3 separate regions of the Homo sapiens genome follow, and regions 2 and 3 are each linked to region 1. Evidence: fine-mapped expression QTL. A gene starts in region 1. Each other region holds a variant in brackets. All regions are shown on one strand. Distances are from middle to middle. Region 1 holds the start of LINC01819 (long intergenic non-protein coding RNA 1819). Region 2 overlaps LOC107985876. Region 3 overlaps THADA (THADA armadillo repeat containing).

Region 1 (5,984 bases):
GGTTCTCCGGTCCGGCCACTCCTCTAGACCTTATTCTGTTTTTGTTTTTTGTTTGTTTGTTTGTTTTGTTTTGTTTTTAGACAGAGTCTTGCTGTGTCACCCAGGCTGGAGTGCAGTGGCACAATCTCGGCTCACTGCAACCTCCGCTTCCCCGGTTCAAGCAATTCTCCTGCCTCAGCCTCCCAAGCAGCTGGGATTACAAGCGTGTGCCACCACGCCCGGCTAATTTTTGTATTTTTAGAAGAGACAGGGTTTTGCCATGTAGGCCAGGCTGGTCTCGAACTCCTGACCTCAGGTGATCCACCTGCCTCGGCCTCCCAAAGTGCTGGGATTACAAGCATGAGCCACCGCGACTGGCCTAGCCCTGCTTATTCTCAAATTTCCTCCCCATCCCCCTACACACCGGTTGGTTTCTACCTCTAGCCTTTTCTTATGCCATCCCCTGGGCCTGAAGCACGCTTTCCATTTCTGCACTTAGCAGTTTTTATCATCGTTTCTGGCCCAAAACAAAGTCCTCCACCTCCCAGCAGCCTGCCCTGACTGCCCTACCCCATGCCAGCCTCACCTCTCTCCTCCCTCCCCGGAGTTCCCCTCAGAGCCATGCACCCATCACTTTATGGGGTCTGACACTTCCATGCTCAGTCCCATGCAACACACAAGCTGCTGGAGGAGGGGCAGGGGCAGAATGATGGATGAGGCTGCAGCGGCTTTGCTCCCTGCCGGGGCTGTGGTTAGATCTCCCCTCCAAGAAGCCTGATATTTTCCAGGAATTTCCTGAGGGGAGGGGGCCAAGTACTCTGGAATGAAAGCCAGCTGTGGGGTTGAGGCCTGAGGGTGGGGAAGGGGGCTCTGGGCTTCCTGGCTGAGTCAGCGGACCATTCCTAGGTAATTTATGGGCTGAGTCAGAGCTGTGGCAGTGGGGCGAGGGGTGGGGTTGGGAGAGCTCCCTGGTCTCTAGGCAGTCTGTGGAGGGGAGGGCAAGAGGACTGGCTGGAAGTAAGTCTGGCTGAGTCCAACACAGACCCCCTCTCCCCATCAGCCTCCCCACTGCTTGGAGCCTGTAAAAGCAGCAGCCAAGAGACGGAACCGTGGGGGATGGATGCAAGCTGGCAAAAGGGGAGAAGCCCCTGGCAGGCACTGGGGGCTCCTGAAGACAGAGGGGCACGCTGGCAGGGAGGGGCTTGGGCCAGCCTCAGGGCTAATTTGAGGGTAAAGAGAACTGCTAATTCCAGCACCTCAGCCTGGGTGCCCCCTCCCGCCCTTTTGTAGCAGGCCTGGCCTGGGCTGAAAAGCAGATCTGGGTTCTAATCTCCCTTCTGCATGGACCTGCGGGTGACACAAGCTTGGTGCCTTCTCCTCTCTGAACTTCAAGTCCTTACTTGGACAAGATGGCCTGGCTCCTCCCAGCCCTGGATTTGGGGATGCTCCGATGCTGCCTGGGAGCCCAGTCTGATCATGGTGGCCTGGAAATCAAGGCTAAGCGAAAGGAAAGCCTGAAAGAGCTGCACTCTAAGCACCACAGCAGGACTTGCCCCTGAATGGAGATGGGGCTGGGGCAGGAAGGTGGCAGGGAGGGGCTGGGCCCTGTGACTGTCACCTCCAGGTTGGAGGAGTGGGGAGGGAAAGGCAGGGCAGGGTGCGTTATCACACACACACTCACCCACATACACTCAAGCACACACCACAGAGTCCAAGGAAAACCTGTTTCTGTCCTAGCACTGAGCCAGGGATCCCACACAAAGATGGGTCCTGGCCAAGCGCAGTGGTTCACGCCTGTAATCCCAGCACTTTGGGAGGCCAAGGTGGGAGGACAACTTGAAGTCAGGAGTTTGAGACCAGCCTGGCCGACATGGTGAAACCTTGTCTCTACTAAAAATACAAAAATTAGCCAGGCATGGCAGTGCATGCCTGTAATCCCAGCTACTCAGGAGGCTGAGTCAAAAGAATCGCTTGAACCCAGGAGGCGGACGTTGCAGTAAGCCAAGATTGAGCCACTGCACTCCAGCCTGGGTGACAGAGTGAGACTCCGTCTCACAAAAAAAAAAAAAAAAAAAGAAAAGAAAAAGAGAAAGAATGGGTCCTGATGAAGTTCCTAGGAGGCTCCCTCCTGCTGACAGAGCACAGCAGGAGTGTCCCCCTGGGCGATGGGGCCCAGCTTTCCCATGTCATTCATGGGCATCTGTTGCATCATGATATCTGTTGCAGAATCATCCCATAGTGGCTTCCAAGCAGGGCGTTGCAGCTGAGACTGGCCCTGGTCTCAGCATCTTCGGAGAGGCCCCAGATTGATAAGTGTCTTGTTCTGAGTCATGGCTCAAAGTCCCCATGACAGACAGGAATCCCTATCAGCATGGTAGATTTCATAAACCCCAAATTAGGGCATGAGATCTGAAAAAGAATCTGGGGGATTTGTGATAACATGTGAGGGCATACAAATAAGGACTCTTACTTGCTCAAGACTAACAAACTGCATGTCTTGACAAGAGTAGCCAAGATGAAATCAAATGTAGACAGGAGGGTTCTGAACACACGTGGGGTCACTGGTGTGGCTTGGCCCGGGACTACCCCTCTCCCCCTCATCACCCAAATCCACCAGAGCCTTCTAGAGGAAGCATTCTCCCCACTGGTGGCGTGGTGGGGCCAGGGCCTCGACAGGGACTGTTGTAATCATCCAGGTGGGAAATGACAGAGAGGTGGTGAGAGGCGGGTGGGCTCTGGAAGAAGTTGGAATCCTGCTGACAAGATGCTCCAGTGGTTTGGACATGGGTCTGAAAAACTCCAGGACGGCTATCCAAGGTTTCGGCCTCAGTGAATGAAGGGATGGGGTTGCCACTGACTGAGGAAGAGAATGTATTCTATTGCATATTTAATTAATTACTTTGATGTGAAAAGTCCAAATAACAACTATGTCTGGAACTGAGCAGGGCATCCGTGGGACCACCGCCCACAGGCACCCAGGGCTTATGGCACCACCCACCCCCGTCGTGGGAGGCCCCAGAGACCCCGGCAGAGAAAGAGGGAGGCTCACCCTCTTGCTGTGGTGTGTGTGGGAGGGGCAGTGTGAAAAGGTCTGGCCCACCTGAGTCCCCTGGGCTGGTAGGAGAACTGGGGCCGGGCAGGGGGTGGTGTTGGAACAGGAGGGGTGGTGTGTGAGCCTCTGTGGGCAAAGACCCACCGTGGCCCACAGAGGCTCTTTCTCCTCAGACCCGGTGTGCTGTTACCAGAGCCTTCTAGAGGAAGTGTTCTCCGAGCTGAGGGCGGCTCTTTGATTCTCCAGGCCACAAACCCCCGCAGCCCGGCCTGGCCAGAGGCGTGCCTGTGCATCCCGGCAAGTGAGCGCCCAGGGACTCTCGGCCAGAGAGGCTGTGAGGGTGGCTTTGTGAGGATGGCTTTGTGTGGCTGCACATTGCCCTTGGCCAAGCCCCGCTGCCAGGAGAGGCAGCTCGGCTGCCAAACCTCCTGAACCCAAGTTACCTGAGCAAGCAGCCCTATCCCCTCGCCTGCTTCTCACTGCCTCGCCTGCCTTGGGCCTGCCCGACCCAGGGGGTCACATGCCTTGTTCCCCATCAGTGGAGACCAGGGACAAGAAGACAGTTCTGTGGGAAGAGCCAGGAGGACCATTTGGGAAAATACAGGTTCCAGGTGTGTCTCCAGACCTTGAGAGTTGGTGTCTCCTGGGAAGAGGCCCTGATGAGATCTGGGGAGATTCGGATCTGATGAGATTCAGGAAGCCCTGGCCTCTCCGTACTTGAGGAGACGGGACACACAGGACAAGCTGCAGGCTGGTGAGCAGGTATGTTCTGCTTCTTTGAGGACAAGAGAACCCTGGATCCTTGAGGGCTCTCAAGGGGCATTTACAGGGTCTGAGCCTAAATCGAGGCATCAGGTCCCAGAGAGGGCGAGGGTGCGTGTGCTCAGACAACCCGAGGTCCCGCAGAGGCCACCAGAGCCCCCAAGGGGGGTCGGAGAGAGTCCACTTCCCGCCAGAGGTGCGATGTGGCCACATCACTGGGCACCTAGTCCTTCTTTCTGCCAGCCTCAGCCATATGATGAGCAACCAACGCCTAAAGCTTCCTGAGCTGGAGGCGGGGAGGCAGGACTGGGGAGATTGGAGCTGGAGTGGAGTGGGCCTGAGCTGGGGACGGTGGGGTTCCTGTGACCCCGCAGGGTGAATGCCTGAGCTGGTTGCTCTGGATATGTGACCTGCTCCTCCCTTCTGTAAACTCTTCACCCTGATCTGGAGAAGGTGATCCCCAAGGGCTAGGACCCACCCACCCAGAAATACACTAAATAAGTAAATGTGCTCTGTTCAGATTTTATCTAATCAGGATTCCAGAGCACAAGACAAATGGCCTCACGTCCGGCTGGGAGGTGTAATTCATTCTCCTGGGTGAGTCCAAAGCCTGGGGCAGAGTGGGGAGAGGAGGGGCGGGGTGATTTAGTGTAGTGGAACGTGCACTAAGGGTCTGGGAGGCCCTGAAGCTTGGAGTGCAGGGCCCAGCGCCAAGACCTCCAGAACAACCCAGCCTTCCTCGGGATCTGCCCAGGGATGGAAACGAACCCTAGTGTCCTTTCTTTCAGGGAGTCTATTTCTGGGACTTATTCCAGGGAATATACATAGGTGGTCATTCAAAGATTTAGCCACAAAGTTGTCCTTCACTGTGACTTCTAAGCCTGAAAAACCGGAAGCAACCTAAATGTCCAAAAATGGGGCATGGGTTAAATACATTGTGAAACATCCAGAAAACAAAACACAATTGAGCCTTTAAAAATGATGTAGAAGAGCATCTAATGACATAGAAATAAGCAGATAGCATAACGAACAGAATAATACAAAGCTGAGATGTATATAAAATAATCTGATTTTTAAATCATTGATTGGGCTGGGCGCAGTGGCTCATGCCTGTAATCCCAGTACTTTCGGAGGCCGAGGCAGGCAGATCACCTGAGGTAGGGAATTCGAGACCAGCCTGACCAATATGGAGAAACCTCATCTCTACTGAAAAATACAAAATTAGCCAGGCGTGGTGGCACATGCCTGTAATCCCAGCTACTCAGGAGGCTAAGGCAGGATAGTTGCTTGAACCCGGGAGGCGGAGGTTGCAGTGAGCCGAGATTGCACCATTGCACTCCAGCCTGGGCAATAGTGAAACTCCGTCTCAAAAAAATAAATAAATAAATAATAAAGCATTGATTTATGAAAAACGTTGGAAGGATATACAATAAAACATTGACGAGTGGTGAGCTAAGGGGTAATTTTAGATTGCTTCTTTTTCTTTGTTTTTATTTTGGTTTTCCTTATTTGAATTTTTAATTTTTTTAGCATAATCATGCACTTACACAATAGACAAATATAAGGAGAGCTATTACTTTACAAACCAGAATCTCCGAGATTTAGCTCAGGAAGAATTCCTGGGTAGGAGAGACAGCTGGCTCAGTCAGCCCTCACTCCACCTCCCTCTGTGCACTCTCCTCTTTGGGTCACTTTTCTTCATTCCCACGGCTTCTTTCTGGCTGGGCCCCAGGGATGCCACCACTTTTTTAATTCTGTGGGCCAAACATAGCTAGAAACCCAGCCTTGGTGGTTGTTTGAGACCGAGTCTCACTCTGTCACCCAGGCTGGAGTACAGTGGCGTGATCTCGGCTCACTGCAATCTCCACCTCCCAGGTTCAAACAATTCTTATGCTTCAGCCTCCTGAGTAGCTGGGATTACAGGTATGTGCCACGACACCAGGCTAATTTTTTGTATTTTTACTGGGTTGGCCAGGCTGGTCTTGAACTCCTGGCTTCAAGTGACCTGCCCATCTTGGCTTCCCAAAGTGCTGGGATTACAGGCGCGAGCCACCACACCTGGCCGAAACCCAGTCTTTCGCTTCTTTTAACAAGCACAGCTAAGAAACCTGGGAAGATCAGACCAGATGGCACTAATAAGGGCACTGAAGGGAAGGCAACAGGACGTAAACATGGTGCCCAGAAGAACTGT
Region 2 (5,984 bases), 54 kb before region 1:
ATGAGGATTAAAGGAATAAATAAATAAAACAAGAGAGGGCCTCTGTACAGAACGGTGATGACAGCGTGCCGTCGAGGAGAATGATGAACTCAAACTTTTGCACCTGAGAGCCAAACAAAAGCTCAAAACCAAAATCTCTCTTAGAAATGATGCCACTGACTTTAGGATGGCACTCATATCTGTGTGAGTGGGAGAGAGAAGGGTTTGGGGCAGGGATTTGACTGTAGCTGTAATGTTTTATTCCTTTAAAAAAGATAAGATAATCTGAAACAAAATGTTAATATCTGTTGAATCTGGGGAGAGGCTATGAGGGTTTCTGTTAAACCATTTTGTGTACATTTTAAATACAGTCATGCATGAGTTAATGATGGGGAATAAGTTCTTAGAGATACGTTGTTAAGCAGTTTTGTTATTGTGTGAACATTATCGAGTGTACTTACACAAACTTAGGATGGAATAGCTGACTATATAACTTAGACTATATGGTCTAGCCTATTGCTTGAAGGCTGCAAACCCATACTCCATGTTACTGTACTGAATAATGAAGACAAGTGTAATACGATGGCAAGTATTTGTGTATCTAAACATAGAAAAGGTACAGTAGAAATGTGGTATCGTAGTCTTATGAGAGTACTGTTGTATATGCAATGCTTTGTTGACTGAAACATCATTATGTGGTTCATGACTGTATATCATAATTTTAAAAAATATTTTAAGAGGTTGCCAATCAAGACACTACAAACTAATTTTGTGGCTTTTGTCAAAATTCATTTCTTTCTTTCTTTTTTTTTTTTTTGTTTTGAGACAGGGATCACTCAAGCAATCCTTCTGCCTTAGCCTCCCAAGTTGGTGGGACTACAGTCTTGTATGCCACCACGCTTGGCTAATTTTTTTTTTTTTTAAATTATTGAATAGAGATGGGGTCTTGCTATGTTGCCCAGGCTGATCTCAAACTTCTGGACTCAAGTGATCCTCCCTTCTTGTTCTCCCTAAGTGGGATTACAGATGTGAGCCACTGTGCCTGGCCCTGGCTAAATTTTAAATTATTTTTGTAGTGACAGGGTTTTGCTATGTTGCCCAGACTGTCTTGAACTCCTGGCCTCATGTAATCCTCCTGCCTTGGCCTCCCAAAGTAGAATTCATTTCTGTTGCTAGGTTGGCCTCTGAACAGTTTTACAGAGCTGAATGCTCTAGTCTTCTGTGACACAGTCTTTTTCTTTTTTTTTTTTTTTTTTTTGAGACGGAGTCTCACTCTGTCACCCAGGCTGGAGTGCATTCGGCTCAATCTCGGCTTACTGCAACCTCTGCCTCCTGGGTTCAAGGAATTCTCTTGCCTCAGCCTCCCGAGTAGCTGGGATTACAGGCATGCACCACCATGCCCGGCTAATTTTTGTAGTTTTAGTAGAGACGGAGTTTCATCATGTGGCCAAGTGGTCTTGAACTCCTGACCTCAAGTGATCCACCCACCTCAGCCTCCCAAAGTGCTGGGATTACAGGCATGAGCCACCATACCCGATGACACAGTCTTAATAAGGAGAAGAATATGAAGAATTTGACTTTTTATTGATGCTAAAAGCATTAATAAATAAGATCTTTGGAAAAATGTGGAAAATGGAAAATGTCACTGCCTGCTGTCTGTAGGGTGAAATGAAATGGCTAAAGAGCTATAGGAGCATTTTGTTCTCACTTGTTGGGTCAGATCAACTTCCCAGGACTTTTTGGGAAGATCACAAATCCTAGACAATCGTACTGCACTGCTCTAGGAATTCTTGGAGGGCTGGAAGTCTCACAATTAGGGCTTTTTCTCTGGGCACCAACCTGACACGCATGGCAAGGGGGCTGAGCAGTTGTCTATGGTATAGATGCTATATTCTATGACTCCTGTTGGCCCTAGCCATAGCTGATTGGTATAGAGGGTCAAAGCTGGGCCAATCAGATTATCTGTCTCAAGATTCTGGAATTCTGAACTGGGGCAGAGACAGGGAGCTGTGGGAATGTGGTTGCTTTAATGGGAATGTTCTGGTGAGGAGATGCATTGACTCCAGATGCTTACATCCTTTCCTGAGGCTCAATTGTTCAACCTTTTCTTGAAATTTAGGGCCAAACAAAAGGTCAAAACCAAAATCACTCTTAGAAATGATGCCACCGACTTTAGGATGGCACTCATATCTGTGTGAGTGGGAGAGAGAAGGGCTTGGGGCAGGGATTTGACTGTAGTTGTAATGTTTTATTCATTATTGTGAATTTTGTCATATTATTGTGATTTGTCAGGGTTGATTTCTATTACTTGTCCTATGGAGTAGGTTACTATATTTTTGTCTTCTCACCTTCCCCTGGTGCTGCTGTTAATACATATGGTATCTTTATTGAGTTAGAAAAAGATGCCTGACTCTGGGTGGACAAGCAAGAAAAAGCTGTTCTTTCCTTCAGGCGGACACAGCCTCTAACGAGGGTGGAAGGTTTGGCCAGTGGAGCACGGGCTGGGTTTCAGGCCATACTCTGCTCACTTCCTTGGCCCAGCCCTTTTGTGCATTGCACAGATGACATCCCCATTTATGGCGGCCTTACACCTGTCCACCATGTGCTTTTGGGATGATCTGTCTTCTGCAGCTAGGCATTGTTCAGAATATGAAGGGCTATTCCAGACAAGATTCACGGGACATGGACTATCATGCAAGTCCTATTCTGGACTTTAAGGCTCATGACAAAGATGTTAAAAGTCAAACCTGCTCAAAGTCAAGACTTAAAGGAAATGTAGAAAAACTCTCTGGCCTGATAAAGTCCACAGAAGCCTCATCTTCTGATGAATGATCTTCAGGCTTGAAAGGATGCCTTCCTCCAAACAGGCTGGCAGACATTCTTGAAATGTCAAAGGATAGGCCAGGGGTGGTGGCTCACGCCTGTAATCCTAGCACTTTGGGAGGCCAATGTGGGCAGATTGCCTGAGCTCAGGAGTTCAAGACCAGCCTGGGTAATGTGGTGAAACCCCATCTCTACTAAAATACAAAGAATTAGCTGGACATGGTGGTGCGCGCCTGCAGTCCCAGCTACTCGGGAGGCTGAGGCAGGAGAATCACTTGAGCCCAGGAGGCGGAGGTTGCTGTGAGCCAAGATTGCACCACTGCACTCCAGCCTGGGTGACAGAGCAAGACTCCATTTCAAAAAAAAAA[G/A]AAAAAAAAGAAAGAAAGAAAGAAATGCCAAAGGGTACTCTTCCATCCCCCTGTGAAAAAAACTAAAAAACTAGTGGTGAGAAGTTAAGAGCAAGATCACAGGAACAGATGACAAGGAGGTGTCTGAAGGCCACAATGAGAGTGACATGGAAACCAGTCAAGGCACTGATGGCCATGGGAAGAAAATGATCTCAAGGAAGAGATAATTCCTTGAGAGGAGGCTGCTCCAGCTCTGATTTGTTCATTCATTTTACAGTCAGGAAGCCACTCCACCCCAGAAGAAGGTAATATGAGTCCTACTACCTTTCTGAAAGGAAGGTGAGTACAGAAAAGCAAGACAGTAACTTTCCCAAGCCAGGGAACCCCTGTCTCCCCAACTTCTGCATCATGTAGACCATTTGTGTCTACAACTTACAGGAGGCAGTGTAGACTAGCAGTTGAGAATGTGAGTCTAGAATCAGAATGCCTGGGTTCAAACCTCAACTCTGTCACTTTCCAGCTATTTGGCCTTGGACATATTACTTAAACATTTGTGTGTTTTAAAACGTGTACACAATCCTTTGACTCTCTTTCCATCAAGAAGTGGAGCCTATGTCCCCTCCCTTTGAACCTGGGTGGAAATGTGGGAGTGCCTAGACAAATAGAATGTGGCAAAAGTGACACTGTGTGATTTCCAAGGCTAGGTTAGAAAAGACCCTGCAGCTTCTGATGATTCCTTTAGGGACACTCATGTCGGGAGGCTTCAGCTGCTGTGAAAGAAACTCAGCTACCCTGAGGCTGCCTTGTAGAGGGACTGCATTTAAAGTGAGAGATTCCTGAGGAGTTCCAGCCATCCAGCCCCAAGCAGTGTGAACCTCCTAGTCTAGACCCCAGCATTTGAGCTGACCTCAGCCCCAGCCACCAATTGACTGCAAACTCATGAGACACCCTGAGTGAGAACTGCCTAGCTTAGTCTCTGTCAACCCTCAAATTTCAGGAACAAAATAAATGATTGTTGTTGTCTTAAGACCACTGTTTGGGGATGGTTTCTTATCATGCAATAGATAGCTGATGCAGACTTTTCTATAACCTAGAAACGGAATGCTGCCATCACAGAACCTAAGTCATGTGGCTTTAGGACTGGGAGATGGGTAGAGATTGTAAGGACTTTGAGGATATTGTTGATGGAAGTCTGATAGTTCTCAAGGAAGTTGCTGGTGAGGGCTTAAAGGAAAGTGAGAAATTTTTATTAGAAGCAGGAGGAAAGGGGACAAACCCTTATTACGTGGTGGAAGAAAGTTAGTAACATTGTCACTTGAAGCTATGTGAGCAATAGAAAATGTGCCTAATGAAGGCTGGGCACGGTGGCTCACACCTCTAACCCCAGCACTTTGGGAGGCCGAGGTGGGCAGATCACATGAGGTCAGGAGTTCGAGACCAGCCTGGCCAACACGGAGAAATCCTGTCCCTACTAAAAATACAAAAATTAGCTGGGCTTGGTGGCTCATGCTTGTAATCCCAGCTACTCGGGAGGCCGAAGCTGCAGAATCGCTTGAGCCCAGAGGGCAGAGGTTGCAGTGAGCTGAGACTGTGCCACTGCCCTCCAGCCTGGGTGACAGAGTAAGACTCTGTCTCAAAAAAAAAAAGAAAAAAAAGAAAAATGAAAAAGAAAATATGCCTAATGAACTAATGGTTTGGGCTAAAACAATTTTTAAGCAGACTGTTGAAAATGCTAGTTGGATTAGAAAATGCTAGTTGGATTATTTTAGCTGTATATGATAAAGACAGAGAAAGATGAGTTAAAAGGAAGCTTTAACTTTCAAGCAAAATTTATAAAACATATACAAGAGCCAGGGGCTTGCTGGATTTGAAAATAAATCTGCTTTTCATTCTCAGCCTCCCAGATGGCAAAAGATTCTCAAAGTATGAAAGGGCTTCAGGACAAAGATAAAACCCAGAGTGGGACTATAAGAACCTTTGTTAAAATCTCAGAAATATCTAAGGCTTCATAAAATATTTTGAATAGACAAAGGCCCTCTAAGTATTTCAAGAGTGTGCCTCAGTGCTCGCTTCAGCAGCACGTATACTAAAATTGGAACAATACAGAAAAGATTAGCATGGCCCCTGTGCAAGGATGACATGCAAATTCATGAAGCACTTCATATTAAAATAAAAACAAATTAAAAATAAAATGAAAAAGAGTGTGCCTCACAGATCCTCTTCATTAAACAACAGGGCTTCTAAGTATCTTAAGTAAATCGTTTTACACCAGCCTCACATTGAGAATGTAGAGAATGTTTTCTTGATGAAATGTTTGGTTATAGCTTTTGACTAACAGAGTGAGCCCCAATAGGATTCATGGGAAACCCACACAGTTTTTAATAGAATTATTTTGTCAGAAGCACCACCAGCTTGGGCAAAAAGGGTCAGAATAGTGTGAAATGAAAAAAGGCTTTTGGACCCCCAAAATTCTATGGGAAGGAAACAAGCTGAAAACTACTCAGTTGGAAACACCAGGTGTATTGGTCTGTTTTCACACTGCTGATAAAGACATACCTGAGACTGGGCAATTTACAAAAGAAAGAAGTTTAATTGGACTTACAGTTCCACATGGCTGGGGAAGCCTCACAATCATGGCAGAAGGCAACGAGGAGCAAGTCACATTTTACGTGGATGGTGGCAGGCAAAGAGAAGATGAGCTTGTGCTTCTTTTTTTAAAACCATCAGATCTCGTGAGTCTTATTCACTATCACAAGAACAGCACGGGAAAGACTTGCCCCCATGATTCAATTACCTCCCACCAGGTCCCTCCCACAACACGTGGAAATTCAAGAT
Region 3 (5,984 bases), 330 kb before region 1:
CCGTGCCTTACTCACCACTTAAAACTCCCAGTGTCTGACACTGGCTCCAGCACATAGTAGGGGCTCTTGAAATGTTGGCTGCATATGAAGTCACACAGTCATTTAGGAGCCAGACCCCATGAATCTTAATTCCCTGGACAAACTCATTCTAGGCCACCCTACTTTCTAGTCATCTCACATAAAGAAACAGATTTTGTTTGCCTCAGAGTAGTGATGGGTAGAGATAAGTGTGTTGTAATGTATCTAGGTTGCCAGAGCCTCTGCGAAGCCCTTCTGAATGTCAGTCATTACTGACATTTGACTTAATTCGAGTGTGGTATTTGGGGCTCAGAAACCTAGTAAGAGTCTTTGCTGTTGATTCCAAGCAGGTGTTAAGTGTTTTGCTTCTAAGTGAGACAGAAATAGGCTTCATTCATTTAACATGTGGCCTTCAGTAACTGAGACGGAATGTTTAGAATACAGATCTTTATCGTTGTCTGAGGGCATCCTAGTAAATCTCTAACATCACATGTAGTTTGGGAAAGGGACATTGCTTCTGTGTATTTTCAGCTATAGAATTAAAGAAAGTTTTGAAAATGACTTAAGCCAAATGGAGACCATTTTTTGAAGAGCAGATGGTTCTCTGTTTTAAAAATGTTGGCTCAATTGTCTTAGGTGTTTGTAGAAAACAAATAATCATAAAGAGGGTATTACTTCAGGAGTGCATACAGCAGAGTGTCCTTGTGTCTTGACTGTCTGAATGTAGTAAGACAGGGGAAGCCATGTACATTCTGAACTGTATCTTTATATACACCTAATAAAATAGAAGAGAGCATTACTGGTTATGTGTAGAATCCTTGGAGAGGCCAGAGAGGAGGGATGTTCTGTTTTCTACAGGTACAACTTTAACCATGCTGTAAATATTGGCTCTGAGGGTTTCACAATGTTTATCTGGCTTCAGGGGCCCCTTTTAGTCTGAAACAGCTTGCAGGTGGGTGGTGTTTCTTGTGTTGGGTTGTGAACACTGACACTGATTTCACGAAATTCTCTTGCAAAATGCTTTTGCATGTTTGTGCTTTGTTTTATTCCTTTTCTTGGAGACCTTCATAGTGCAGGCCCTGGGCTGATTTTCCTTTGCTGTCTTAACACTGTCAGCAGTTCTGTAACAAGATTAAAGGGATACCTCAGTTTTCAAAAATAGAAGTTCAGGAGGTTTACTGCCCAGCAGAGGAAAGTCAGAATAACCAGCGTTATATTCTTTTGGCCTACAGATTTTTCAGTTTCCTAAAATTGTGACCTTGTATTTAGAAAAAGAAAACATTTACAAAATTTTCCTCTGTGTAAAATTATTTTGAAGTGCATGCTAGCTTCACTTTAACGCTACTCTTTTGGAAAGAATTTTGTGTAAGGTGCATTCATCTTAGATGTCATCCAGTAATTGAAAAGCTAAGAAGCTACAATGATGAAGTATAAATCAGACAGGGACCCCAAGTATACTTATCATTTTAAAATTAAGAAGAATAGAGAGAAAATACTGTGTTATATTATACTTACTTCATTCCTACTTGGTATACAGTTTGTGATCTTGCAGTGTTTATTGCTCCATTGATAGTTTCATTGACAAACTGGATTATGTGGTGGCTAGAGGATGATATAATAGAAAGAAGTTTTGGATCCAGGCAGACAGTCCTGGACTTGATATTCTCTTTCCCCATTTTCTAGATACTTGCTAGGGCAAGTCACTTAAACTCTGAACTGAAGCTTACCCATCTGCAAAATAATAACGCATAATTGGCAACGATGCTGTAAGGAATAGAGATGTTACATGTACAAATTCCCAGTATAGTGGCTGGCATGATATAGTTTCTTAATAAATGGTAACTATCATTTGCATAGTTTTTCTGGTTTTTTTTTTCTTTTTGGTCCACGACCATTTATTAGAAAATAAATCTTACCTCCCCAGACTGAAAGCTGTCTTTGTCATACACTGAGTTTCAGTATATAGTTGCTCTTATTTTCCAGATTTTTGGTCTTTTCCTTTGAACAATTTGTTTATTCATACACCAGTTGCTCATAGTAGCTTTACAATATGTGTTTTACAATTTGGTGTAGACTAATTCCCCTTCAGTATTATTTTTTCAATATTTTATGAACTTTAAATCAATTTGTATAGTCGCCTACCTTTTATTGTCATTTTTAAAATTAGGATCACACTAAACTAATATGTTAACTTATTAACTATATATAACATATTTAATTATGTGTTATTTAGTGGTTTATGCCATTCCATTTGTTTGTATCCTTATATGTCATCAACAGCATTACATTTTAAAGGTTCCTTCGTATAGAATGCATTTTAAAAATATTTCTTATTGCTGTTATCAGTGGGTACTTTTATTGGTTATATCTTTTGATAGTGCTATTTTACTTTTGAAAATGATTGACTTCTGTATATTTGCTTTGTAATAATACTATTAGTCCTCACTTCTATTGCACTAACTCTGGGTCAAACACTTAGATGCACTTACATATATTTGCTGATTGAATCCTCATAACGGTTCTAGAAAGTGAATACTATTTTACAGTGAAGAAACTGAGGCTCATATAGCTAGAAAGTGGCAGATCCAGAGTTCAGAACCTGTATTCCTAACTTCAGTACCATACTGTACCGTGTCACCTAACTCTCATTTGCTGTATTATTTGTAAAGATCTTTTGTGCACTAATATGTTTTCCGTTGATTCTCTTGGGCTTTCCCCAAGAATATTACATGTTTTTGATTGGGCTGAATATTATAAAGATGTCAGTTTTCTCCAAACATAGGCTTAATGCATGTCCAATAAAAATTTTAACTTTTTAAACTTTCACTTGATAGTGTAATTCCAAAATTCCAAAATTGATGTGCAACAATAAATAGTAAGGATCAATGAAATGTTTTTTGATTGAGATTGTGTTGCATCTGTCAAGCAATTTGGGGAAAACTGACATTGTTAAAGTATAATTTCATAAAGGTAAAATCACTCTCAGGCAAATATAAAATGAACATGCATGTAAGATTTTATTTAACTCATTAATTAATAAGGGAACTAGAAAGATGTTGTGATCAATA[C/T]AAAGAACATCTGTTGGTAATATTAGAAATGAGTTTTCCTGGTGTATTCCAATAGAGAGTTTAAATACTTATTAGACTTGGGCAGGCTCATTGGCTCATGCCTGTAATCCTAGCACTTTGGGAGGCCGAGGTGGACAGATCACATGAGGCCAAGGAGTTCGAGACCAGCCTGGCCAACATGGTGAAACCCCATCTCTACTAAAAATACAAAAATTAGCCAGGCCTGATGGTGTGCACCTGTAATCCCAGCTACTTGGGAGGCTGAGGTAGGAGAATCGCTTGAACCCGGGAGGTGGAGGTTGCAGTGAGCCAAAATCGTGCCACTGTACTCCAAGCCTGGGAGACAGAGTGAGACCCTGTCTCAAAAAAAAAAAAGTTAACAACTGAGATTTATTACAAGCTATTAATTTTTTTCCTTAAGAGAACCTAGTCATGTACTAACACAAATTATTTTAGACAGAAAATAGAAATTATTGGATGCCAATAATAACTTGCATCAAGAGAATAAGCAGTTCTAGTAGTCTTTTAAAGTTGACAGTTTTCATAGAGATAGTGAAAATGTTGGGCTTTTTGTTTTAATTCTTGAACATCATTTATGATTTAAACTGTGTGTTATATATTGTATTTTAAATAAACATGTAAACTTGTCATTATTTTGTACACTCCCCTAACATTTAACCTTAAACACCCAATACATGTTTGTTAAATGAATGAATAAGAGTAATGCTGTTTTTGAGTAATTCAAAGGGTGTGATGGTGATAGTATTTTCTTTTCTTTTTTTCCTCTTTGTTTTCCTATTGGTAGCATTAGAAATAAGTTTTTTGGGGGGGTATTCCAATGGAGAGTTTAAATACTTACTAGACTTGGCTGGGCGTGGTGGCTCATGCCTGTAATCCCTGCACTTTGGGCAGATCACTTGAGGCCAGGAGTCCAAGAGCAGCCTGGCTAACATAGTGAAACCTCGTCTCTACTAAAGATACAAAAAATTAGCGAAGGTGTGGTGGCGCACACCTGTAACCCCAGCTACTGCGGAGATTGAGACCGCGCCACTGCACTGTAGCCTAAGTGACAGAGTGAGAATCTGTCTCAAAAAATAAATAAATACTTATTAGACTAATGCTCTACACTTGTCACAATGGAAGTCGAGCCACTTTGAAATGCAGTTTATATGGCCTGTTTCCTTTTTGGTGACATGAAACAGGCATGCTGCATAGCAGAACAAGAAAACTCATGTTGTAGAAACCCCCTCTGTTGGCTGTGTTGAGTGGGTGGGGATTTGAGGACCTTCACACTCTGCAATGCAAAGTTCCCAGAGGGGTTAGAAACTCCTGACCCTAGAACTCCAAGTTTAATGGCCACTTCACCTGTCACTTCATCATTAAAAAAGAGTGAGATTTTTCTAGAATAAAGAAGAAATCTCATTAATTTGAATTTCACTATTTTAGGGTTTTGTTTTATTTGTGTAATTCTGACACATGTACTACAAAAATGTACCTTCCTCCGTGATGTTTATTATTAATGTGTCCTCTGAATGTATCAGGTTCAGAACAGAAACAGTACTTGTGTGTTTTAGTTCACATTACTCATCATATTTAAGTAATAAAACTAGCAGCTCTTTAAAACTTATTTTTTGTTTGAATAGATTTCTCGTGTGTTCAGATTAGTCTTTTCCCAGTTAGTTTGTTGTATGCACGTTCTTAGACATTTGCCACTGATGTTTAAAAATTGTTTAGCTGACCACACAGTCTTTGGAGACTACTAAGAAAGAAGTTTATATTGTGAGGAGGTGACAACAGGCAGCCCAAAGATGGGAGAATATGTTTGGATGAATGATGACAAAAACTCAACGCCCAGGAACGAGTTATCCCAACCATCAGAAATCCAGCATGAGGTGAATATCCTGGGGCCTGGGTTTTATAATCCATCACTGACTTGGGGAGTAGATATTTAAACAGTGGGGAAAGTTAGCACATAAACCTAGCTGCTAAAATGGCAAGTGATTTTTTTTTTTAGTGCACCAGAAAAGGGAAATAGCGGACCCTCTAAGCAATTAAGTGGCCAAATTGCGTGTGGAGGTTTGGCAAACAGACCAAAGTAATTCAGTCCATGGACAGCAAAATAGTTTTAGTTGAAGAAACTGTGAAGGTTTAATTTATTTTGTTTGCCAAGGAGTTGATGCATTCAGGGGTGAGTTAACAAAAGAATCAAAGAGTTTGAAAATCAAGTCAGTGATCTCTCCCCTTTGTGAAAAAGAAAAGAATGCATGTTTTGTTTTTTTTCTTTGTCTTTATTTTTATAAGAGCACTTTCTTACTGAATATTGTTTAACATAAAGAGACAATTTACTTGTGAAAGTTCATTCCCCTCTCAACAAAAACTGAGCATTGCTCTTTCTTATATTATGAAAAATCAGTATCTACTATTAACATTCTAATCAGTGTAGAAATTCTACCATTTAACCACCATTGCAAAAGAATGTTATAATATGTCATTAGACATATGTAAAAACTCATCAAGCTATACATTTCAGATTTGGAACTTCAAGTTGTATTGCTACTTTTAAAAAATTTTTGCATTAGGAGTGGTGGTCAGAGTTTAAGAATTATATTTGATAATTTAAGGAATTATATACTTCATAGTACTATGAAGAGGATATTCTTTATCTAAAAAGGTTCCCCAAGGACTGAAGCTTATGGTTAATTAAAAATAGAATAAATATAAAAATCTACCTTCAAGTTACTATGTTAATTATTTGGCACAACTCAAACTCCAGAGGCTGAAAAAGAAAATGTTGTGGGCATGTTTTTCAGTGTTCACTTCAAAGCAGAAATGTAATATTCATTAATCTTGTTCTTTGATTGTGATGTTAGCTCTTTTGTTACTGTGGAGTTTACCTTG

The links. PIP is the estimated chance that this variant, and not a neighbour inherited with it, causes the effect.
Region 2: its variant is the best candidate, but not a certain one, in a credible set for the expression of LINC01819 in whole blood (TOPMed, PIP 0.51).
Region 3: its variant is the best candidate, but not a certain one, in a credible set for the expression of LINC01819 in whole blood (INTERVAL, PIP 0.52).

The regions. Positions count from the first base shown.
Region 1 is chr2:43,036,929-43,042,912 of GRCh38, reverse strand. It overlaps LINC01819 (long intergenic non-protein coding RNA 1819), which reads left to right and starts at 3,370. Exons shown (of 6, transcript NR_110585.1): 1 at 3,370-3,793. RefSeq lists enhancers at 1-25, 669-963, 26-967, 968-1,910.
Region 2 is chr2:43,090,722-43,096,705 of GRCh38, reverse strand. All of the region lies in intron 2 of LOC107985876, which reads left to right. It also overlaps the pseudogene RNU6-242P. Among named protein-coding and RNA genes, the nearest start is that of LINC02580, 8.7 kb to the left of the region's middle. The variant G/A (reference allele first, on the strand shown) is at 3,171.
Region 3 is chr2:43,370,959-43,376,942 of GRCh38, reverse strand. The region is part of intron 29 of THADA (THADA armadillo repeat containing); the gene reads left to right. Among named protein-coding and RNA genes, the nearest start is that of LINC01126, 150 kb to the right of the region's middle. The variant C/T (reference allele first, on the strand shown) is at 3,087.